3 separate regions of the Homo sapiens genome follow, and regions 1 and 2 are each linked to region 3. Evidence: fine-mapped expression QTL. A gene starts in region 3. Each other region holds a variant in brackets. All regions are shown on one strand. Distances are from middle to middle.

Region 1 (8,200 bases), 280 kb before region 3:
AAGTGGCAGAGGGCCGCCTTGAAGAAGTAGTCTTTGGCGCTGTACTTGAGGAGGGGGCTGTCCATGGCATTGGTCCCCACCTGTAGCCATGGAGAAGTGGCACTGGTGAGCTCAGGGCAAGCAGCCAGAGGGCCAGAGCCACTGCCAGGCACTGGGGGGCCAGCTGGGAGCTGGTTCATGTCCCGAGGTGAGGCCCTGTTAACCCAGGACCCCAAGGGCAGGGAGCCAGGGACCAGCTTGGAGAGGTCAGCGGCCAGTGCGTGAGCGACCAAGATCAGGGTGTGATGGTGGCTGGGTGGGGGTGGAGGCTGTAGCCAGGTGTTCGTGGGCCTTCTGAGAGCCTGAGACAGTGGGAAGGAGGCAGCCTGGCTGTCAGGACCAACGGGAGGCTGGCATGGCGGTGGGCAGAGCGGCGGCAGGCGGTGGGAACATGAGAGGCGGCGCCCGCCCCTCTCTCCCAGGGGGCCAGCTGCCTGCCTTTTTCTCGGCCATCACCCAGGGCTCCGTGCACGCTGGGGGGACCCCATGTGACACTCCCTCCCTCCCACTGTGGATGAGGACCATCGGGCCATGGGGTGGGGTGCCCACGGCCACCCTGGGCCTCTTGGCACTTCTTCCCATTCCCTCCCTCTGGGTTCTTTAGCCAGCCTCACTCTGGGCCCCTCCAGGAAGCTCTGCGAGGGGTGTGGGAGGGGCACAGCCAGGGAGAGAGACGGTGCTGGCACGGCATGGAGTCGTAGGTGGAGAACATTCAGCCAGGCTGAAGACAGGGTGGGGGGATGACATGGCAAGGGATGTCGGGGGAGAGGCAGAGGGTGAGCCGGGGGAGGGGTGGTTCCAGAACAAGGTGCCGGGGCTTAGGAGGAGGCACAGGCCCTGAGAGGGGGCAGGGTGGAAGCCGCCATCCCCACCTGTCCCCACCTGTTCGTAGATGTCAATGGCCTTCTGATACTGCTCCAGCAGCGCAGCGTAACCAGCCACCTTCAGCAGACACTTGTTGGCTGAGCTGTGTGGGGAGGAGTAGTGAGGGGAAGTGGTGGCGGTCCCTGCGGGGCTGGGGCAGGCAGGAAGGGGGCTACCTGTTGGACTCCTCGCCTTTGTAGTAGTCTGCAGACTGCTCGTAGTGGGCAATGGCCTGGGGAGACACGGGGGATGGGTTCCAGGGGAGGGCAGGGAAGGGAGAGGAGGCCTCCGTGAAGCTTCCACACCCTCCGCCCTGCCTGCCTGGGACACAGCCAGACCCCATTCTCCAAGCTCTGCCGGCGCCCCATGCCCCCTTCTCGGCACTCAGACACCAGAGGACTCCCCTGGTGGGAAGAAGAGAGAGCAGCACTGGTCCTGGCTGCCAGCCCATGCAGGGCCCTGCTGCCACTCACCTTCTCGATGTCCACCAACTCTGTCTCATAGATCTCAGCAATGGAGATGTGGTGCTTGGCCGCAATCGTGAATCGGCCCTGGAGGGGACACAGGAAGGGGCTGCCTGCGACTCATGACCTCCTGCGTGCCTGCCTGCTGACCTATGACCCTTCAAGTTCCCACCCCTCAGCCACGCCTGTGAGGAGGTATGAAGAAGACCTGAGGTGTGAAGAAGATCGAGAGGTGGGGGAACACAGGAGTGAGAAGGGAGGGCCCCAGCACTAGAGGCCTGGCTATGCGTGCTGGGCTGAGCGGGTGATGTTGGACAAGCCACTCCAGGGCCTTAGCCTAATTCCATCCCATCCACGAGGGCACAGATGGTGTGACACCAGAGAGAATGTGAGCACGAGCACTTGGCCAAGGCCCTGGCCCTTAGGAAGCCTCTGATAACAGCCAGAGAGGCGGAAGGACCAGTCCAGAGCCACTTGGCAAAGGGCTCTGGAGAAACCAGGATGGGAGGGAGGGCTTGAGACCTCTGCCCAAGAGTACCAGCTCTGCCCCCAGGCCAACACCTATCTGTCAGCCTCCCCCAGGCACACCCAGAGCTCCCCAGGGAGGCCTCAGGTTCCAAGGGGCCTCGCACCTTCCATCCGCCTCCACCCAGTGTCCAGGCGCTTGCCTAACTGCTCTGCACCAGGGGCTGGTCCAACGCCACCCCCTTGCTGAGGGCAGTAGGAAAGGGCAAGGCCCTGGGCTCAGCCAGACCTTGTTTCGGGTCTCAGTGACTCCTGCTTGTAGCCACATGTCCCTGGGCAAATCATGTCACTTGTCTGAGCCCCTCTCCTCCACTAAGGAACGGGGATGACAATAATGCCAACCTCACAGGGCTGTGGATTAAACCACCCTGCAGTGTCTGGCCTAATAAATGGCAGCTGCTATTATTGTTCTAATCACAGTCATCCCTGCAGCACTGCCCTGAACGCAAGGGGTAGGGCTCGTGTCCCTGCCTGGGGTTGGAGGGCTGAGACAGACAGGGCAAGCGGAGAGGCAAAAAGGAGCTGGCCAGGCACGGTGGCTCATGCCTGCAATCCCAGCACTTTGGGAGGCCAAGGCAGGTGGATCACTTGAGGTCAGGAGTCTGAGACCAGCCTGGCCAACATGGTGAAACCACATCTCTACTGAAAATACAAAAATTAGCCAGGCATGGTAGCACACGCCTGTAATCCCAGCTACTCGAGAGGCTAGGGCACGAGAATCGCTTGAACCTGGGAGGCAGAGGTTGCAGTGAGTGGAGATCACGCCACTGAACTCCAGCCTAGATGAGAGAGAAACTCTGTCTCAAAAAAAAAAAAAAAAAAAAAAAGAGAGAGAGAGAAAGCACTGACAGGAGCCCCGGCCTGGGTGGGACCCTTCACTCTGGCTCCAGTTGGCAGCTGCCCATCTGGTCTGCATCTGTCGTTGGCAACGCGCCCTGGGGGCAGGGCAGGTGCTGAGCCTCCTGTGGGCTCTGCCTATCCCTGTGGCCTGCTGCAAGATGCTTATCAAATGTGACACTTGCGGGAAGGCTGGGCAAGGGGAAGTGCCGGACACACACTCTCCAGTAACCTAATTTCTTTTTTTGTTTTGAGACAGGGTCTTGTTTTGTCGCCTACGCTGGAGTGCAGTGGTGTGATCACAGCTCACTGCAGCCTCAACTTCCTGGACTCAAGCGATTTTCCTGCCTCAACCTCCCAAGAACTAGGACCCCAGGTGCATGCCACTACACCAGGCTAATTTGTTGTAGAGAGGAGGTCTTGCTATGTTGCCCAGGCTGGTCTCGAACTCCTGTGCCCAAAAGATCCTCCCACCTCAGCCTCCCAACATGCCAGGATTACAGGCATGAGCCACCCTGCCCAGCTCAATAACCTAAGTTCTATGAATGAAAACCATGACTGCCTGTGGAGTGAGGGGGCCGTCAGGCTGGTGGGGAGCTGGGTGAAGACCCAGCCAGCCCAGGCCAGCTCAGGTGACCTAATCCCCCCAGCTCCCACTTCCCCCTCCCCAAGTGGTTTGGCCGCAGAATAAGAACAGTGCTGGGGGTGCTGAAAGAGGGGACGCAAGGCTGGGGCAATGCAGTGGGACCCGGGGGTGTCAGGACAAGCAAGCAGCCCTTACCATGTCTGTGTAGATCTCGATTGCTCGCATCAAACAGTTAATGGCCTCTGGAGAGAAAGGGAGGTGGGAGGAGACATGAGAAAGTGAAGTCGTTTCAGCAGAAGCTGAGGAGAGGAGGCGGACGCAGGCGCACCTGGCTGCCAGCAGAGAGATCAATAGGCGCTCAGAGCTGCCAGCGCTGCCACACACTCTCAAGGGGCTGGGAAGAAGGGGACGGAATCCCTGAGCCCCAGGAAATCTGGTGAGAGGGCTGACTCTGCAGACTGTGACTTGCTGGGCACATGCTTCTGGGGGAGCCCTTCTCTCCTCGGGCTGCCAGGATGCTACCAGCTTCCCACAACCCCAGGGACAGGGCACAGCAGTGCTAGGCCAGGATGATGGCCAGACTCCCACGGTGTTTTAAGACAGACCT[G/A]CCAAGGCCCTGCTCTTGAAGGACTGAGCTGCTGGCAAAGGGGAAGGAGGCATGGGAGGCGGCCAAACCAGCATCTGAGGTGGTCTTGGAGGCAACAGGGTGCCAGGTTCTACCTGGGCTCTGCCACCATCTCTGCAGGATCCTGAGCAGCTTCTGCTCCTGCACCAGGAGGACCTGGACCTCTGGCACGAGGAGGCTGGATGTCATCAACACTGAGCCCTCAGTGTGCTCTCCACTGCCCCCTCTTCCTCGTAGCTCAGCAGTCGGGAGCCCTCTGCTCAGTCCCTTTAACCTAGTCCTGCCACCCACCAGCTCCTCAAAGGTTTTGCCAAAAAACCTGAACACACCAGGATGGCACTGAGGAAGAACTGGGCTACCTTTGTTGTACTATCTCTTGCAAGATTTTAAATTTGGGAAAGGCTTTTTTTTGACAAGTTATTTGGAGGAGAGAGAAAAGCATGAGTGGGAGGCATTTTCTAGCAGACAGAAATGAGCTCTCAGGGGGTATTTTTTAAGAACACCATTTTAGCACATCTCAGGAGGACAGGGGTGTTGTGGGGAGGGAGGCCTGGGTTGGGGAGAGGGAAAGGCAGGGAGCTTGGACAGGCCACAGGGCATGGGCTCTGAGCTTCAGCCTGGGCATCTGAAAGTTCCTGGTCACCGTGGGGGTCTCCATGGTCACCCAGGCCATGTTCGCCTGAGAAGAGGGTGCTACCAAGAAGCGCCGGGGCTGGGCTCCTCTCAAGGGGCTCACGGTCTGGATGGGACTCCAAACTCCCTCCGTGGGGAGGCATCTGGACAGAGGCTCTTTGTCTCAGGTCTGTGGCTGGGCTTTCAGGGAGTCCAACCCCTCCTTCTGACATGTAAACAGTGGGGTCCATAAGCACTCCTCTGGGGAGTGGGGTCTGTAGGTTTTGTCCAATTCAGAAAGACCTCTGGGGATCTAAAAGGGACTGAGAGAAGGTACAGCACTCAGTCCAGGTTCTAGGGCTGACAGACCGAGACTGTGGCAGCAGACAGTGGAAACGGTGGCAAAAAGGGGGCAGATGAGGAGGAAGGGGAGAGAACACAACCTAAATCCGGCAGTTTGAAGACACATACATCCTGTAATCGGCGGACCCAGAAGCAACGGCTAAGCCGGGCCACGCTGCAGAGGAGAGCAGCAGCTGGAGTGAGGTGAGAGGCCCGCCTTGCCCCGCCCCACCTGGCTGCAGTCTCCACATGGAGGCCCCGGGCTGCTCACTGGTTCACTCTCCTGGCCGGAACACCCAGGACACCAACCTGGCACCCTGTGGGCTGAGGCGGCAAAGGCTGCTGCTCCGCAGTGAGCAGTGAGATCTGCAGCTGCCACCTGGGCCTGCTGGCACTGGCTCTGGAGCACCCGCCGTCAGCATGGCACAGTCCTTGCAGTAGCAGCAGGGAGACAGCTTACCCCCCAGGCAGCAACATGGACTCACGGGGTTAAGTCCCCTCCATGTCTGGAAAGCGGCGGGCCACCAGCAGACACCTGGGACAGCTGGCTCCTGGACGAGCTTCTGACACACTCATGACTGCTACTCTTATCTCAGGTCACCAGGCCTTGTGCACTCGGACAGGCAGAGCAACACCCAGTTCTGTGGCCTGGCCCCTCCTGTACCCACCCACAGAGGGCTGGAAAGGGGCTCAGAGCAATACAGCCCAAGTTGGGGAGCTATGGCCCAGGCCACCGCCCATCCCCGCAGTCACTCCTACCAGCGACGCCCAACCTGACTTCTGCGTCTCTGAAGCCCTTCCTGGTTACACTTGGTCATCTCCTCCTTAGTAAAATGGGGGCAAATCACAGAATGCACAAAGAAATCAAATGGGTTAAAAGATGCCAAGCATCTGGTACACAGTAGAAACCCAGTAAATGGCAGCTGGGGAGGAAGTGGGGGACAAGCAGGGGCCAGGTCGCTTCTCTGCCCCAGGTACACACACTGCCCCCACCCCCAACTATCAGGCAGGCCTGGGAAGAGGCCTCGCTGGCCCGAGTCTGCCCTGAGCAGCAGCCATGGTTGGGTAACTGAGGAACCAATAACACATATGAGCATCACCCTTCCCCACCCAGAGCCACCAAGGTGGCAGCAGGCCACCCTCTGCGAGAGGGAGAGGAATTCGGGAGCCCAGTCGGGCCTCAGGCACACTCCAGCTGCCACTTGGGGGCAGGTCCTTCTGGAGGGAGTCCTGGAGGAAGCCCTAGAAGTGCTGACCCAAGACAGAGGCCTTCTAGGCTGCTGAGGAGACCAGTGATGAGGACGGCCCCAGGGTACCGGCCACCTGCTTGGGGAAGCCAGGCAAGGTTCCAAATCGGGCCTCCAGCGCTGTCTCACAAGGCACCCGGCCAAGGGCAGAGGCTGTGGGGAGCCCAGGGCAGGCAGGGGCCCCTGGACTGATGAAAGCCAAGGGTGTCCTGACTGGAAGTTTATCACACACCAGGTGCCGCGCTGGGCATGACTGCATCATCTCACAGCAGTCTCTGCTTTAACAGACGAGGAAACAGAGGCCCAAAAGACTGACTTGCCCAGGATCACAGGGGAGGCAGGGTCCTCCCAGACCACCCACCACCTGCGCTGCTGAGCCACACACAGTTGCTACATGACATTCTCTGTGAGGCTTTTTTTTGGGGACAGGATCTCACTATGTTGTCCAGACTGGTCTTGAACTCCTGGGCTTGAGCGATCCTCCTGCCTCAGCCTCCCAAAGCACTGAAATTACAGGCATGAGCCACTGCACCTGGCCTTGTGTGAGGCCTGACTAGCCTCAGACACAAAGCAGCCACTGCCCTTGATGCCAATGTGCCCCTTGCCCCACTGGGAGTCATGGCTGGCGTGCGTATCTTTAGGCTGTAGCTCTGGAAGCTGCACTAACACCCTTCCCTGCTCAACACCACGTCCCCAGGGCTCTGGACACGGCACCTGCTCTCAGCTCTACCCAGGTGAGGCTCTCCTTTCAGAACTGCCCCCTTTCTTCCTTGAAAGATCTCCCATAGCCAAATTCACGCCCCCAGCCTCAGCTCTGTGCAAGTTGGCCTCTGTGCCCTGGATGTAACATCATCTTTATACTTTCCTACCGGTCGGAGTCCTCAGCCACCTTCTGAGCTTCCTAAGGCCAGGGAGGGGCCACATCCAGACTCCAGGCCCACACCCTGCAGAGTCTCGCTGGAGAGCTAGAAAAGCTCAGATCAAACGCAGGGGAGGGACCCCACCATATCCCACTGCCAGGCAGGGCCTGTCTGCAGGAAGTGAGGGGTCTGCTGAAAGAGCAAATGGCACTCTCTGTTCGGCAGCCTGGCGCTCAGTGTTGCCCCAGAGTGTCCTTCCAGTCACTCCAGATGGGGCAGCAGCTGAACGTCACAGATGCTAAGACAGCACCTCTAGGCCAACCAGTTTCCCAGGGAGCAGAAGGAAAGGCTTGGCGGGGCAGTTTAATGGAAGGCATGGAGACTCCATGTGGTGAATCAAGCTTAAAACCAACCCAGGGTCTCCCTGGGTCATCACTGCATCAACCACGCAGCCTGCTGTGGCCCAGTGCTACCAGCCAGGCAAGCCCCATGGCCCACCCAGTTACAAGGCTGCTCCTCGGCCTCTTGCCAGGCCTGAGCCCCACCATGTGACCACTGAGGCCAACGCATGAGATGCCCAGCTGCTGAGGAGCAACTGGTCAGTCTAAGGACAGAGAAGAGCTACTGGTCAACACAAATTCATCCTCATCTGGGAACTAACACGTCAGATCACGACAAAGGGGTATGCCAGCAGTTCTCAAACACGCCATGTGAACCAGTGCTCACTGATCCATGGAGGAAGCTCCCTGCACTGCTGCAAACCTGTCTTCTCTTGGGAAGGACAGGCTTTTATTCCAAGATTATATAGCTGCTTTTTATTTTTTAAAGATTCATATATTTTCCATTCCCCTGAGATGACAGTGACAATAGATGGTCATTTTTAAAAACTGCCTGTGCTTTCTAATTAGCAACCTGTACCTGGCACCAACATTTTAAAAAATAAATTAAAATTCCCGCCACATGCAAGCAAACACTGGGCTGGACCTCCTCTTCGGGAGGCACCCAGGGGGACAAAACTGTTTTCTCACCATGAGTCAGCCCCAAACTGGGTTTCTGTCCCTAGCACGCTCTCATTTTAAGTAATTTGTTCTCTGGCAACTACATCTCGGGCTCTGTTCTCTCTAATTCCTCCCCAGGATGTAGGGAAGCCAGGTTGGGCTAATTTCCGCTCCTTTTTCGGCAGCAACTCCTACCTGGCT
Region 2 (8,103 bases), 27 kb before region 3:
CTGCGGAAACAGGTCAACCTTAATATAAACAAGGGGACCTCAAATGGGCAGAAAGCAAGCTGGAGACGAACTTAGAGAAGGCAGGTTTTTCTTTTGAGATGTCAGTGATCTCCATGCACAGATAAGCTGCTGGGAGTCTGCCTTGATGAATAAGTTAGAAACACATTAAAGGATCTCTTTTTAGCTTGCAGAAAAGCAAGTCAAGGACCTGCTTAACTCAGTCCTGCCGGTTGCGGTGAGTCACGCCTGTATTCCCAGTACTTTGGGAGGCTCAGGCAGGCAGATCACCTGAGGTCAGGAGTTCGAGACCAGCCTGGCCAAGATGGTGAAACCCCGTCTCTGCTAAAAATACAAAAATTAGCCAGTTGTGGTGGCGGGCACCTGTAATCCCAGCTACTTGGGAGGCTGAGGCAGGAGAATCACTTGAACCTGGGAGGTGGAGGTTGCAGTGAGCCGAGATCGCGCCGCTGAACTCCAGCCTGGGATTACTATTATTTTTTTGAGACAGTGTTGCGCTGTCATCCAGGCTGGAGTACAGTGGTGTGATCTCAGTTCAAGCGATTCTCCTGCCTCAGCCTCCCAAGTAGCTGGGACTGCAGGCTGCACCATCAAGCCTGGCTAATTTCTTTTCTTTTCTCTCTCTCTTTTTTTTTTTTTTTTTTTTTTTTTGAGATGGAGTTTCAAGCCCAGGCTGGAGTGCAATGGCGTGATCTCAGCTCACCGCAACCTCCACCTCCCAGGTTCAAGCGATTCTCCTGCCTCAGCCTCCTGAGTAGCTGGGGTTACAGGCATGTGCCACCATGCCCGGCTAATTTTGTATTTTTAGTAGAGATGGGGTTTCTCTATGTTGGTCAGGCTGGTCTCGAACTCCTGACCTCAGGTGATCCGCCCGCCTCGGCCTCCCAAAGTGCTGGGATTACAGGCATGAGCCACCACGCCTGGTCAAGCCTGGCTAATTTCTGTATTTTTAGTAGAGATGGGTCTTCATCATGTCAGCTAGGCTGGTCTCAAACTCCTGACCTCAGGTGATCCACCCGCCTTGGCCTCCCAAAGTGCTGGGGTTATAGGCGTGAGCCGCTGCGCCTGGCCAAGATGAGCTTTAATAGGAATAAGAGGACTTGCTTTAGTGAGCGGGTAACACACGTCTTAACTTGCTTGCCTTAAGTTGCTAGAATGTAGGGTGGGGATCTGCTGAAACAAGATGAGGCGTGAGGGAGGGATTGCTCTGGTGAGTAATAGTGTTTACTTCAATATGTAGAAAAACAAACTAAGAACAGATGATCTGCTCTAATGAACAGCCTGGAAGCAAGCGAAGGGGTCTGCTTTAATGAGCAAGAGAGTGAGCTTGTGTGAGATCAGTCAAAGGGTATGTTTTAATGAAAATGAGCGGACCTGGTTCAGTGACCAGATAGAGTGGAAGGAGCTGCCCTGAGGTACAGGAGACTTCCAATAGGCAGGTAAAAAGTGGTTATTAGAGTCTGGGTGCAGTGGCCTACACCTGTAAGCCCAGCGCTTTGGGAGGCCGAGGTGGGGCGGATCACTTGAGGTCAGGGGTTGGAGACCAGCCTGGGCAGCATGGCGAAACCCCGTCTCTACTAAAAATACAAAAACTAGCCGGACGTCATGGTACACGCATGTAATCCCAGCTACTGAGAAGCGCTTGAACCCGGGAGGCAGAGGTTGCAGTGAGCCAAGATCATACCACTGCACTCCAGCCTGGGCGACAGAGCAAGACTCTGTCTCAAGCTGGGCGTGGTGGCTCACGCCTGTAATCCCAGCACTTTGGGAGGCTGATGCGGGTGGATCACCTGAGGTCGGGAGTTTGAGACCAGCCTGACCAACATGGAGAAACCCCGTCTTTACTAAGAGTACAAAATTAGCCGAGCGTGGTGGCGCATGCCTGTAATTCCAGCTACTCAGGAGGCTGAGGCAGGATTGTTGCTTGAACCTGGGAGGCAGAGGTTGCAGTGAGCCAAGAGCGCATCATTGCACTCCGCTCCAGCCTGGGTTACAAGACTCTGTCTCAAAAAAAAAAAAAAGTGGGGGGTTATTAGAGAAGTCAGCCTTGACCGAAGTGAGTTGATCTGGTGTGTGAGTGTAAAGGGTAAGTCAGTGACCTGCCCGTAATGAACAGATGGGAAAGTAGTTACCGGCGTGCTTTGGCGAGTGGGAAGCCTCTTTGGGGGGCAGGAAAGAGGCAGTTTATGGGTTCCACTTTAGTAAGGAAACACGGACAAAGATCATAGTGGTTGTGAGCAGTCAACCAGGTCAGCCCCTGTGCTTTGTGGGCCTTAAATGATTACATCTTCATAACGGCCTAGTGAGGGAGGTATCCACATCCTCATTTTGGGGGCACGGAGGAGCTAAGCCTCTTGTGTGAGGTCCCACAGTCCATGCAAGGGTGTTATTCCATTCTAGAGTGTTTTGCTGTAGAGTTACTGCTTTTAACTGTTAGGCTTTTGAAGTAAAAACCACAGGTATCTTTGTGGGAGGAAAAAGACAGTAAAAACCAGAGAACTAGAAGTTATGCTGAGAAGTGGCCATCCTGGGTCCCAAGTCCACTTCTGTGGCCCTCCCTGGGCTTCAGTGTCAACTGATGACTTGCTTTCTTCCTTTTTTTTTTCCCCCTGAGATGAGATCTCACTATGTTGCTCAGGCTGGCATCAAACTCCTGGGCTCAAGCGATCCTCCCACCTCAGCCTCCCAGAGTGCTGGGATTACAGGCGTGAGCCACCATGCAGGGAAGAGGTTCCCTGTTTGTCTGGAAGACCCTCCTATGTGGCTGTGGGCGTGACTCTTCGTGTCCCCAGCATGGGGCCTGCCTCCTGCTGGCCCAGCACTTGGTTGTGGAGGGTCAGAGCTTGGGCACCTTGGGCCCCATCCTTAGGGGCCTCTACCTCCAGGTAGGAGCCTGGGGACCTCCAAGTCTCCTGGGGTGACTTGGGATTCAGGTCTGATGGCTCCCATGGAGGTGAATAGGGTGGGTGGTCTTTGGCAGTGGGTAGGGCTGAGGCCTTGACTTGTTCTCTTTCCCATTCTTAGGGCTGACAAAGAAGAGAACCAAAGTCCAGAAGAAGTCACTGCTTCTCAAGAAACCCCTTCGGGTTGACCTCATCCTCGAGAACACATCCAAAGTCCCTGCCCCCAAAGAGTGAGTGTCCCAGCATCCCTGGGCCCTTCTTTCCCACCAGACTCTGGTCCTAAAGGGTTTCCGGGGCT[G/C]GGGGCTGGTAGGTGAGGGTCATTTGAAGGGTAGGGCAGGCTCAGGTTTGGGCTTCGGAGTGCAGATTAGAGGGAGGGAGTCTGGGTGCCCTGGTGCTGGGCCGAGGCAGGTGAGGAGGGGCCTGGACCCAGCTGGGGGCTTCGGGGTTGGAGAGGAGGGGCTGAGTGGGAGGCGTGTTCAGGAGGCACATCAGGTGGGTCTTGGGGCATGAGCGGGTGAGAGGGTGGACAGCTGGCCTTCCCCTGAGATGGGGATGTGGAGGAGTGGGATTTCGGGTGATGCTGAGGTTGGTTTTGACGTGGTGGTGTGAGGTGCCTGGGGTATGTCCAGGACGGGGCTGTTGCTTCGTTGAGTCTGGGGCTCAGAGGGGAGGCCTAGGCTGGAGACAGACGTGGGGAGAGGAGTTCTCTGAAGAGGGGGCGGAGTGCCACCTTTTGGAGAGGGGGTGCTGAAGCTGCCTTAATGGTGGAGGAAGCCCGACGGGGAGGAGGCCCTGCTGCCGTTCAGGCTGCCACCTCACCTGCTGCACTTGTGCCCCCTCTCCCCGACCAGCGTCCTCGCCCACCAGGTCCCCAACGCCAAGAAGCTCAGGCGGAAGGAGCAGCTATGGGAGAAGCTGGCCAAGCAGGGCGAGCTGCCCCGGGAGGTGCGCAGGGCCCAGGCCCGGCTCCTCAACCCTTCTGCAACAAGGGCCAAGCCCGGGCCCCAGGACACCGTAGAGCGGCCCTTCTACGACCTCTGGGCCTCAGACAGTGAGTGATCCTGCTGTCACCTATGAATGGGGACAGGACGGCCATGTGCAGTTTGTGTGTGTTGTGCACTGCACGAGAGTACAGTGTGAAAGGGAGTGCTTTGTGGGTGCTTTGGTGACCTCCCAGCAGAGTCGTGCGTCCTGAAGGGGCGGCCGTTTCCCACTCGTGCTTTTCCTTTCCTGAGTTGTGAGGCTTCAGGAAAGGAAGCCTTCAGCTTTGGTCTCTTCCACTTTCTGAACCCGTCCAGACACAGTTTTGTCCTGGTGATCAAGGCCCTTGGGGTCTAGAATCAGTCCTTCCCTTGCCTGAGCTTCAGGGTCACCTTTTTGAAATGTGGAGGGATTGGGGGGGAGCCTTTGGTGCCTCTTCCATGCTGGGACTGTCCCAGCAGCTCCCCTCGCTGTATCCACAGACCCCCTGGACAGGCCGTTGGTTGGCCAGGATGAGTTTTTCCTGGAGCAGACCAAGAAGAAAGGAGTGAAGGTGAGATGTGTGGGAAGGGCATCCTGGGTGATGGGAGGGTGAGGAGGGCCGGGAGCTGCTCTGTGTTCCTGCAGTAGAGTCTGTCTCAGAGCCCTTCCATCCCAGTGGCCGAGAACTCTGTGCTGGAGCCAGGTGGCTGGGATTCCTGTCCCAGCTCCAGTGCTGACTGATCCTGGGAAGGTGGTCTCACCTTTCTGCAACCTATATCTTCCTCTAAAATGCAGATGAGGGCCGGGCATGGTGGCTCACGCCTGTAATCCCAGCACTTCGGGAGGCCGAGACAGGTGGATCACCTGAGGTCGGGAGTTTGAGACCAGCCTGACCAACGTGGTGAAACCCTGTCTCTACTAAAAATACAAAAAAAAAATTAGCTGGGCTTGGTGGCACGTGCCTGTAGTCCCAGCTATTAGGGAGGCTGAGGCAGGAGAATCGCTTGGACCAGGGAGGTGGAGGTGGCAGTGAGCCGAGATCATGCCACTGCACTCCAGCCTGGGCAACAAGAGCGAAACTCTGTCTCAAAAAAAAAAATAAAATAAAATACAGATGAAATTGTACTTAGATCATGGGTCGGTGGGGAGAATGTAAAGAGGTAGCACATGAGAAGGTGGAGCCCGTGCTGGCAAGTGGCAGAAGTGTCACGGGTTTGAGTTTGGATTTGCAGCCTCCTTCTTGAGCTGCTGGACCCCAAGTGTTAGAGCCCAGGTGCTTACAATCTCCGGGGCTCAGCCTCGTGGGTAGCAGAGGATAGGCTGCTATCCTTTTTCTGAGATGGAGTCTTGCTCTGGAGTCACCTGAATGCCCCTTGAGCTCTTCCCACACCCAACCACTGGCAAGGCCTGGAGCATCTGCCCCATGGCTGTGTCCTGGGTCACCCGCAGCCCCAACGCACGGCCTTACCCTGCCTCGGCCTTTTCTCCACAGCGGCCAGCACGCCTGCACACCAAGCCGTCCCAGGCACCCGCCGTGGAGGTGGCGCCTGCCGGAGCTTCCTACAATCCATCCTTTGAAGACCACCAGGTACACTGCCCCGTCCAGGCCTCCCTCCTCAGTGGGCTCTGCCTCTTGGTCAGGCCTTCACTAGCTTCCTCCCTGTGCTGGGAACTCCAATGACCCAGACAGCCCTGGGCCTGTCCGCAACGGGGCTCACGGTCCAGTGCAAGAGACCTGTTCCCAGACAGTGATGGGCAGAGTGGTTGGGGCTGGGAGCCCAGACGGGGCACCTGGCCCAGCCTGGGGGGTCAGGAAGGGCTCCCGGGAGGAGGGGTCGCCTGAGCCGAGGCAGAGGCTGAGGGAGGGGTTTGCAGTGGGAGGAGGGGAGTGGGTTTTCCAGGTGGTGGGAACAGCACTGCAAAGGCACAGAGTTGAGAGAGACCGTGGCGCCTTCCAGGAAGCCTGTGGGGCAGAGATGAAAAAGGCTGTGGTGACACGGTGGCACACTGGCAGCCAAGTGACAGTTATATATGGGCGAGGCTAGCTCAGCGATGGGAAAGTCTAGCTGGAGCCACTGTGCATTTAGCGGGCATCTGTTGAGCACAGATGCTGTGGACAAAGGGGACAAAAACCCCTCCCTTGGCCGGGTGCGGTGCCTCACACCTGTAATCCCAGCACTTTGGGAGGCTGAGGCGGGCAGATCATTGGAGGTCAGGAGTTGGAGACCAGCCTGACCAACATGGTGAAACCCTGTCTCTACTAAATACAGAAAATTAGCAGGGCATGGCAGCACGCATCTGTGGTCCCAACTGCTTGGGAGGCTGAGGTGGGAGGATTGCTTGAGCCCAGGAGGTCCAGGCTGCAGTGAGCTATGATCGCACCACGGCACTGCAGCCTGTGTAACAGAGCGAGACTCAAAAAACAAGCACAACCCTCCCTCAAGGAACAGCCCTTCTCATGGGGTCACGTGACTGGAGAGATGCTGAGATGTTTGCGGTAGATGCAGGACCGCTTGTCCGAATCGTTTTCAGCATTCATAAGAAGGAGATAGCTAGCCAGGAACAGAGGCAGCTTCCTCATCTGGTAGAGAAAAGTGTCTGCGGAAAAAAGCAACAGTGTGCTCATGGTTGAAAGCGTGAGGGTGCCGCTCACTGCCATCTGTTCCTGGACCAGATGTGGGAGGGGGCGTGGAGATCAGACATTCACTTTTAGATTTGTACAGAACTACTTCGTAGAGATAAAATTCACTTAACCATACGGTCAGCCTAGTTAGAGTATGTGATTCAGTGGCTTTTAGTGACCATTGTGTAACCATCCCCGCAGTCAATTTTAGAACATTTTCACTGTCCGTAAAGGAAACCTCACACATGTCAGCCATCACCCCCGCAATTCCCTGTCTCGTGTGGTCTTGGGCTGCCAGGCTTCCTGTCTCAGGGACCAGCCCACCCTGACCAATTCACATAGATGAAACTGTGGGCCGGGCATGGTGGCTCACACCTGTAATCCCAGCACTTTGGGAGGCCGAGGTAGGTGGACCACCTGAGGTCAGGAGTTCAAGACCAGCCTGACCAACATGGAGAAACCCCATCTCTACTAAAGTTACAGAATTAGCCGGGTATGGTGGCACATGCCTGTAATAGTAGCTACTCGGGAGGCTGAGGCAGGAGAATCGCTTGAACCCAGGAGGCGGGGGTTGTGGTGAGCTGAGATCACACCATTGCACTCCAGTCTGGGCAACAAGACAGAAACTCTATCTCAAAAAAAAAATGTGAAGCGTGCAGGTCAGACTGCCTTCACAGACGTGCAGAGCAGGTGTGAGGGCGAGGGTTTGAGGTGCCCTCTGGCTCTGTGCAGGGTGGGTGTGCTGGTAGACGGGGTGTGGGGAGGAAAGCCTGGGCCGGGGCGGGATCCACGGGCACTGGATGAGGGACAGATGGGAGGTAAGAGGGTCTAGTCTCAGTGTCCCAGGAGGGGTTCAGGGACCCATCCTCACTCCCGCCCCTCAGACCCTGCTCTCAGCGGCCCACGAGGTGGAGTTGCAGCGGCAGAAGGAGGCGGAGAAGCTGGAGCGGCAGCTGGCCCTGCCCGCCACGGAGCAGGCCGCCACCCAGGTGAGCCCCGCACCTGCCCACTCCCTCCCCTCCCCGGGCCTCCTACCCACCCCTGACACTGCACCCCGCCTCCCCAGGAGTCCACATTCCAGGAGCTGTGCGAGGGGCTGCTGGAGGAGTCGGATGGTGAGGGGGAGCCAGGCCAGGGCGAGGGGCCGGAGGCTGGGGATGCCGAGGTCTGTCCCACGCCCGCCCGCCTGGCCACCACAGAGAAGAAGACGGAGCAGCAGCGGCGGCGGGAGAAGGCTGTGCACAGGCTGGTGAGCGCCTGGGCCAGCGGGGCCTGCCTCTGATGCCTCGCCCCCTTCCTTCCTTCCTCCCACCATGGGCTGCCCTGGGTGCTGCGGGCAGCCTGCACACCCCAAGCCCCGCATGTGGCCTGTGGTTTGGGCTGTTTGGGATCCTCACAGCTGAGACTCATTTCCCAGCCTCTTCCAGGCAGGGCTCGGGCTGGGGTGGGACAGGGTCCCTGGCGCTTCTGTTTGAGGGGCGGGGTGGGGGGAGGTTTCTGCACCGCAGACCAGGGGAGATGGATGACAAAAGGGGCTTCAGCAAACAGCTGCTGGGAAGGCACTGGAGGGGCCGCTGATGTGACGGGGTTAGGAAG
Region 3 (8,200 bases):
GGTTGGGTTTGTCTGGATGTGCAATTGTGTAAATGGGTGAAGGAGATCACTTGTGTGTTACCATTTGTCATGTGTGTGTTTGTGTGTGTGAAAGAGAGAGAAAAGGGGAGGGGGATGGCCTCCCAGCCCAGAAGTCATTACTAATTCCTCCAGCATCCCCCACTTCTGGGCAACAGAGGCCCTTTTGTTCACAGTGGCAGAGGCAGTGATGTCCCTTCTCTCTTGAGGCCCCTGGCAAGTTCTCAGCCCTGAGCCTGGTCAACAAAAGGTCCTGTGAGCTTTTGCATTGAGCCCGGCCACTTGCAGAGTGTGCTGAGGACATCAGTGAGGGCACGGGACCTGTGACAACCACAGTGGCTTGGCCAGCGATGGAGGAGCCAGGGGCTTAGAGAGGGCCTTCTTGAGGATAATGTTGTTACAAGATAATTATGGGAAAAAAGGGAAAACCATGACTGTCCTACAGATCTAAAAATGAACACATGGGGCGGACATGATGGCTCGTGCCTGTAATCAGCATTCTGGGAGGCCGAGGTAGGAGGGTTGCATGAGCCCAAGAGTTTGAGACCAGCCTGGGCAACATAGTGAGACCTCATATCTATTCTTATTTTTATTTATTTTTAGTTTTCATTTTTTCTTGAGATGGAGTCTCCCTCTGTCACCCAGGCTGGAGTGCAGTGGCATGATCTCAGCTCACTGCAACCTCTGCCTCCTGGGTTCAAGCGATTCTCGAGCCTCAGCCTCCTGAGTAGCTGGGACAACAGACATGCACCACTAGGTCCGGCTAATTTTTTTTTTTTTTTTTTTTTTTTAGTTTTAGTAGAGATGGGGTTTTGCCATGTTACCAGGCTGGTCTTGAACTCCTGGCCTCGAGTGATTTGCCCGCCTTGGCCTTCTGAAGTGCTGGGATTACAGGCGTGAGCCACCACGCCTGGCTCCATCTCTATTTTTTTTTTTTTTTTTTTTGAGACGGAGTCTCGCTCTGTCACCCAGGCTAGAATGCAGTGGCGCGATCTCTGCTCACTGCAGGCTCCACCTCCCGGGCTGACGCCGTTCTCCGGCCTCAGCCTCCGGAGTAACTGGGACTACAGGTGCCCGCTACCATGCCTGGCTAATTTTTGTATTTTCAGTAGAGACGAGGATTCACCATGTTGGCCAGGCTGGTCTCGAACTCCTGACCTCGTGATCCACCCACCTTGGCCTCCCAAAGTGCTGGGATTACAGGCGTGAGCCACCGCGCCCAGCCTGAATGATGTTGTTATGGGTTGAATTGGGTCCACTCCCAAAATTGGCATATTGAAGTCTTAACCCACCGTACTTTAGAATGTGACCTTACCTGGAAGTAGGGTCGTTGCAGATATAATCAGTTGGGGTCATACTGGAGTAGGATGGTCCCTAAACCATCATGACTGGTGTCCTTAAAAAATTCGGAAATTTGAGCCTGGAGAGGTAGCTCATGCCTGTAATCTCTGCTCTTGGGGAGGCCGAGACAGGAACATCACTTAAGCCCAGGAGTTTGAGAGCAGCCTGGACAACATAGCAAGACCTTGTCTCTACAAAATATTTTAAAAAATTGGCTGGGGCCGGGCCCGGTTCTCAAAGCCTGTAATTCCAGCACTTTGGGAGGCCGAGGTGAGCAGATCACTTGAGGTCTGGAGTTGGAGACCAGTGTGGCCAACATGATGAAAGCCTGTCTCTACTAAAAATACAAAAATTAGCTGGGCATGGTGGCGCATGCCTGTAGCTCCAGCTTGGGAGGCTGAGGCAGGAGAATTGCTTGAACCTGGGAGGCAGAGGTTGCAGTGAGCCGAGATTGTGCCACTGCACTCCAGCCTGGGCAACAGAGTGAGACTCCGTCTCAAAAAACAAACAAACAAACAAACAAAAAAATATATATGGTATGTATATATTTATTTTGTATATATATTTTTGTGTATATACATATCTATATATATAATTTGTATTTATAGAGATGGGGTCTCACTATGTTGCCCAGGCAGAGGTTTGAGTTTTTGTTGAGGGCTCTGGGAGTCACAGAAGATAGCTCTATTTGTGGGTCATTCACTTTTTGCCCAGCCCTGTGTTGCTTTACATGCACTTGCTCATTAAATCCTCCCAAGATCAGGGGGATCAGACTGAGGTGGGTGGAGTCGACTTGAACTTTGCTTAGGGTTCTAAGAGGTAAAGACTAGGGGATCTGGGGACAGGGAAATCCCAGATAGAGTTAACCTTTTTTTTTTTTTTTTTTTTTTTTTGATACAGTCTCGCTCTGTCGCCCAGGCTGGAGCGCAGTGGTGCAATCTCAGCTCACTGCCTTCTGTCTCCTGGGTTCAAGTGATTCTCCTGCCTCAGCCTCCCAAGTAGCTGGGATTACAGGCGTGCACCACCACATTGGGATAATTTTTGTATTTTTAGTAGAGACAGGGTTTCACCATGATGGCCAGGCTGGTCTTGAACTCCTGAGCTCAGGTGATCTGCCTGCCTCGGCCTCCCAAAGTGCTGGGATTACAGGTGTGAGCCACCTCATCAGGCTGAGTTTATTGAGTTATCCCCGTGTGCCAGTCAGAGCTCTAGTTCTTCCTACCTGTATAAACTCGCTTACTGCTCACATCAACCATCTAATGGAAGTGCTGTTTTCATGTTGTTTCCTGCCCTTTGTCTCTACCTGCCAGATCACTCCCATGAAGGAAGGGACTTTGTTTATTTATTCATTGCTGTATCCCTGGAAACTGGGACTGCAGGTGGTTATGAAGTACCTATTTGTTAAATGAGTGAACATTTCCTGTAGGCAATTACACCCAACTTCCAAATGGAGAAACAGGCTCAGAGATAAGCCCCTGCACCCTCACTCCTCAACTCAACTGCCTGTTTCTAGCACTTTCCATGACGATCCCCTCTGCACGGAGAGGGTTCATGGGGAGTGACTATTGTTCTGTAATGAATGACCAGGCTGTGCCAGGTCCGGCAGTAGGCCTTTTCCTTTTCCTTTTTTTTTTTTTTTTGAGATGGAGTTGAGTTTTGCTCTTGTCGCCCAAACAGGAGTGCAATGGCGTGATCTTGGCTCACTGCAACCTGTACCTCCTGGGTTCAAGTGATTCTCCTGCCTCAGCCTCCCGAAGAGCTGGGACTACAGGCATGCGCCACCACGCCTGGCTAATTTTCATATTTTTAGTAGCGACGGGGTTTTGCCATGTTGTCCAGGCTGGTCTCGAACTCCTGACTTCAGGTGATCCACCCACCCTGGCCTCCCAAAGTGCTGGGATTTCAGGTGTGACCCACTGTGCCTGGCCAGGCCTTTTCCTTTCTTTCTTTTTTCGAGACAGTGTCTTACTCTGTTGTCCAGGCTGGGGTGGCAGTGGCACAATCACGGCTCACTGCAGCCCCAAACTCCTGGGCTAAAGTGATCCTTCCACCTCAGCCTCCCCAGTAACTGGGAGTACAGGTACATGCCACCACACGGACTAATTTTAAAAGTTTTTGTAGAGATGGGGTCTTGCTATGTTGCCCCAGCTGGTCTCAGACTCTTGGGCTCAAGCAGTCCTCCTGCCTCGGCCTCCCAAAGCATTGGGATTACAGGTATGTGCCACCGTGCCCAGCCGCAGCAGGCCTTTTGTTTTTTTAGAGAGGGTCTTGCTTGGTGGCCTAAGCTGGAGTGCAGTGGTGCAATCACGGCTCACAGCAGCTTCCAAACTCCTGCGCTCAAGCGAGCCTCCTGCCTAAGCCTCTCAAGTAGCCTGGGACTGTAGGCACACACCACCACGCCCGGCTGATTTATTATCTATTTATTTATTTGAGGTGGAGCCTCGCTCTGTCACCCAGGCTGGAGTGCATTGGCCTGATCTTGGCTCACTGCAACCTCCGCCTCCCAGGTTCAAGTAATTCTCCTGCCTCAGCCTTCCGAGTAGCTGGGACTACAGGCACGCGCCACCACGCCCATCTAATTTTTGTATTTTTAATAGAGACGGGGTTCCTCCATGTTGGCCAGGCTGGTCTTGAACTCCTGACCTCAAGTGATCCGCCCGCCTCGGCCTTCCAAAGTGTTGGGATTACAGGCGTGAGCCAACGCACCCAGCCACTAATGTATTATTATTATTATTCTGTAGAGACGCAGTCTGGCTATGTTGCCCAGGCTGGTCTTGAATTCCTGCCTCTGCCTCCCAAAGCGCTGGGGTTACAGGCGTGAGCCACCGCGCCCTGCGGCTGCAGGTCTTTATAAGGCAACTGTGGGCCCTGGACCGCTCCCTGAAAACCTCCCCCTCAACTCCCTGTCTCCTCCCTCACCTGGTCTACCCCGAATCCTTCCCCTCTCGCCCCCTCGCCCTCTCCAGGGGAGGTGAGGGACTCAAGAATCGCGCCCTGCTTCTGTCCCCACCGCGCCGTCCCCAAGCCCACGCAGTGAAAAGACCACCCTTGAGGCTGATTCCGGGTCCAGCTGGGAGCGGCCAGCCGTAAATCACCGCCCCCGTGGGCCGTACCATTCTGGCCGGGGGGACCTGGGAGGGGACGCGCGGAGGGCTTCCCCCGGGGACTGCCTGTATCGAGACTCTCTCCAGCCCAACAGGAGGATGGGAAGGAGACTTGTGTGGGGGCCTCGGGCTGGCGGGTCGCGGGTTCCTTATCCTCCGCCTTGGCGCCTCTCCGCCCACCGCCCACCGCCCCTCCCTGGCATTGGTTGGCGCCAGGGGAAGCCGAGGCTCCATCCTTTCTGCGCAGGTTCCCGCCGCACTCGCGCAGACCTAGCGCGTCCAGGTGGGAGGTTAGTGTGGCCCGGGCGTCCGCTCCTCAGCGGATGTGGCAGCCCCGAGCCATGGCTCTCGCCGTCCGAGTCGTTTATTGGTAAGCCCAGCGGCCAGCGGCCCCCGTCCCCGACCCCCGCCGGGACCCGATTCTCGGAGCCGGGGTCAGGGAGCCCCGGGGAGAGGACCCATGGGAGCCCTTGTATGGGAAAAGGGAGCCCCTGTATGTGGGTGGGGTGGGCGTACGGAGGGGCGAAAAACAGAGGGCGGTCGTCCCTAGGCCCCGTCTTCGACTTGTGACACGCTGGGCATCTCGGGTTATAAAAGGTGGGGCTGAGACGAGTGTGTGTCAATTTCGAACCCCCGACTCCGGGGCTCCGCTGGGGAAGGGGCTGGGGGTCAGCTTTGTAAAGGGACCTAAGGCTCCTCCACCCTAAGGCTTCCCCTCCCCCAATATCCCGAACAGTCGCGGGGTGGGGACAGTGAGAGCCCAGAAGGTTCGAGAATGTCTCAGCCTGTGTTTCAGAAGCACTTGAATTGTTGGCCTCTGCCCAGTGGGTTCCCTTGGCCACGAACCCCACTCCTTTTCTGGCCTCAGTTTTCCGTCTGTGGCAAGAGGGAGGCTCTGTGTCAATACCGAACACGCTTAATTTCTGCAAGTCTCAGGAAGGGTATAATAGGATAGGATATAAATTACGTTCTCTCCACTCCCCAGCACCTAATACTGTGTGGCATGCTGTAGGTATTTAATAAATACGTGTTCAATGAATTTATCCTCCCAGGAATCCCTTAAGAGAGGGGAATTTTAGGCCAGGTGCCGTTGATCACGCCTGTAATCCAAACACTGGGAGGCTGAGGCGGGTGGATCGCTTGAGCCCAAGAGTTCGAGACCAGCCTGGGCAACCCAGGGAGACCCCCCCCTCGTCTCTACAGAAACTTAAAAAGTTAGCCGGGCATGGTGGCGCACTCCTGTAGTCGCAGCTGCTTGGGAGGCTGAGGCAGGAGGATCACTGGAGCCCGGAAGGCGGAAGTTGCAGTGAGCTGAAATCGTGCCACTGCACTCCATCCTGGACAGCAGAGCGAGACTCTGTCTCAAAAAAAAAAAGTAAATTAAAGAGAGGAATTTTAGTTCTATGTTACAGGTGAGAAAACTGAGGCTGGGACTGGGGTGGGGGCAGGTCAGTAGCTTCAAGTCTGGACTGCAGGTGACAGGGGTAACTGGAACCTGGGTTTGTCGGCAGCTTTCCAACGTCTCTGCCTGCTCGACAAAGCAGAGGCAAGAGTGACATTTTGAGACGCCTACCAGGCCTGTACACCAGATTCCAGTCCCGAAATAGCCTGCTGTGGGGGTTGGGTGAGCCTGTATTTCACCCTGGGGACTGGGAAGGTGTTCAGAATCTAGGAGCTGCGGGGCCGGGTGCGGTGGCTCCTGCCTGTAATCTCAGCACTTTGGGAGGCTGGGGCGGGCCGATCCCCTGAGGTTAGGAGTTCGAGACCAGCCTGGCCAACATGGTGAAAATACAAAAATTAGCTGGGCGTGGTGTAAGAATCCAGGAGCCGCAGGGTTTTCCTTGGAGTGCTGCGAGGGCTGTGGGTGAGGGTGGTGGGCACAGGGAGTGGGTGGGGACCTTACGTGTGCTGTTCTTCTCCTAATCCAGTTCTCCTGGTTTTCCCCCGTCCCCGTCTCTCGTATTTGTGGTCTCCTTGTCTCCTCTCTCCCCTTTTTCCCCTCCCCCTTCTCTGTCTCTTGCTTGGTGTTGGTTTTCTGTGTGTCTCTGTGTGTCCCCGCGCCACCCCCTGTGCTGTGTCCCAAAACTCTGCCTGGCTGGTGCCTGTCTTCTCTCTTGAGGGCATCTGTCACCTCTTCTGCTTGGTCATCTGTGTTCCTCTTTATTTCTTCCTGGCCCCATCTTGCTCTCTCCCCACACCGCCTGTGTCTACCCTCCTCTCCCCGATCCCCCACTTCTCCCTCTCTCCCCTGGGCCCCAATGTCTTGGACTCTCCTACCAGTGGCGCTTGAGGCTACAAGTCCAAGGTAAGCAGAGTGGATGCCCGGGGGGCATTCCTGGGAGCTGGGGAGGGGTAGAGTGCATATTGGGAGGGGGCTGACTGGTATGACCCCTGCTGTGACCTCTCACCGCGTTTTCAGTATCTTCAGCTCAAGAAGAAGTTAGAAGATGAGTTCCCCGGCCGCCTGGACATCGTGAGTCTTGGGATGGGGAGAAAGACTTGAGCACAGCCACTGTGTCGGTCCGTTAGGCCTGGATGGCACTGCAGGGGGGTTAGGTCAGCCCTACGCCCTTCACCCATGTTCTCATCCCCCTGGGAAGGGGAGGGTCTCCCCAAGAGGACATCTTAGCCCCTCCAACATCTCCCCTACCCCCTTTCCTCAGTGCGGCGAGGGAACTCCCCAGGCCACCGGGTTCTTTGAAGTGATGGTAGCCGGGAAGTTGATTCACTCTAAGAAGGTATGTCTGTCTGTCCGTCCTGCCTGGTTTTGGGGCTAGCATGGGGTTGGGGCTGAGGTTGGTGTCTCGGTCCCAGCTCACCCCTTCCCTCTTCCTCCCCTCCCTAGAAAGGCGATGGCTACGTGGACACAGAAAGCAAGTTTCTGAAGTTGGTGGCCGCCATCAAAGCCGCCTTGGCTCAGGGCTAATGCGCCCTGAAGGCAGAGGTGAGGGGGCCCACTAGACAGGGACACCACCCTTTGGATCTTCTCCCTGCCCCATGCTCTGACTCCTTGGCCCAGGGTGGAGAGCCTGGGAGATGGGGGGGACATCACGTGTGTCCCCAGAGCGAGCGGGATAAAGTTAGACCCGGTTGGTGGAGGACAACAACTGAGATGGGGTCAGAGGTGTGCAGGGTGACAGCTGAGATGGTGATGGGTCAGAGATATGCAGGATGACAGCTGAGATGGGGTCAAAGGTATGCAGGATGACAGCTGAGATGGTGATGGGTCAGAGGTGTGCAGGATGACAGCTGAGATGGTGATGGGTCAAAGGTATGCAGGATGACGGCTGAGATGGTGATGGGTCAGAGGTGTGCAGGATGACGGCTGAGATGCTGATGAGTCAGAGGTGTGCAGGATGATGGCTGAGATGGTGATGGGTCAGAGGTGTGCAGGATGACGGCTGAGATGGTGATGGGTCAGAGATGTGCAGGATGACAGCTGAGATGGGGTCAGAGGTGTGCAGGATGACAGCTGAGATAGGGTCAGAGGTATGCAGGATGACAGCTGAGATGGGGTATGCAAGATGACAGCTGAGTTGGTGGTGGGGTCAGAGGGCTGCCCTAAAACAGCTCTCCTGGTTTGGGAATGAAAAGTGCTAGCAACCCAACGGTTCAGAATCCGGAACTCTAGGTCTTTGTCCCATTGCCAAGAAACAGTTCCCAACCCAGCAGGTCATGTGACAGCGTCCGGCCAAGTTCCCAGCATGTTTTGAGACAGAATTTCCTTGCTCCACAAT

Evidence for each region.
Region 1: its variant is fine-mapped to the expression of SELENOW in whole blood (INTERVAL, PIP above 0.99).
Region 2: its variant is fine-mapped to the expression of SELENOW in whole blood (INTERVAL, PIP above 0.99).

The regions. Positions count from the first base shown.
Region 1 is chr19:47,492,040-47,500,239 of GRCh38, forward strand. It overlaps NAPA (NSF attachment protein alpha), which reads right to left. Exons shown (of 11, transcript NM_003827.4): 4 at 3,511-3,557; 5 at 1,377-1,454; 6 at 1,080-1,135; 7 at 922-1,006; 8 at 1-80. NAPA-AS1 (NAPA antisense RNA 1) reads left to right here. Exons shown (of 4, transcript NR_038452.1): 2 at 1,408-1,562; 3 at 2,989-3,105. Among named protein-coding and RNA genes, the nearest start is that of NAPA-AS1, 12 kb to the left of the region's middle. The variant G/A (reference allele first, on the strand shown) is at 3,923.
Region 2 is chr19:47,747,136-47,755,238 of GRCh38, forward strand. NOP53 (NOP53 ribosome biogenesis factor) reads left to right here. Exons shown (of 13, transcript NM_015710.5): 3 at 3,043-3,151; 4 at 3,773-3,972; 5 at 4,385-4,455; 6 at 5,377-5,472; 7 at 7,392-7,496; 8 at 7,574-7,756. Among named protein-coding and RNA genes, the nearest start is that of SNORD23, 4.7 kb to the right of the region's middle. The variant G/C (reference allele first, on the strand shown) is at 3,220.
Region 3 is chr19:47,773,982-47,782,181 of GRCh38, forward strand. SELENOW (selenoprotein W) reads left to right here and starts at 4,722. Exons shown (of 6, transcript NM_003009.4): 1 at 4,722-4,833; 2 at 6,744-6,768; 3 at 6,883-6,936; 4 at 7,127-7,201; 5 at 7,309-7,407. The coding sequence starts at 4,805. The coding sequence ends at 7,389. RefSeq lists silencers at 4,610-4,869, 4,880-5,019 and an enhancer at 7,087-7,672.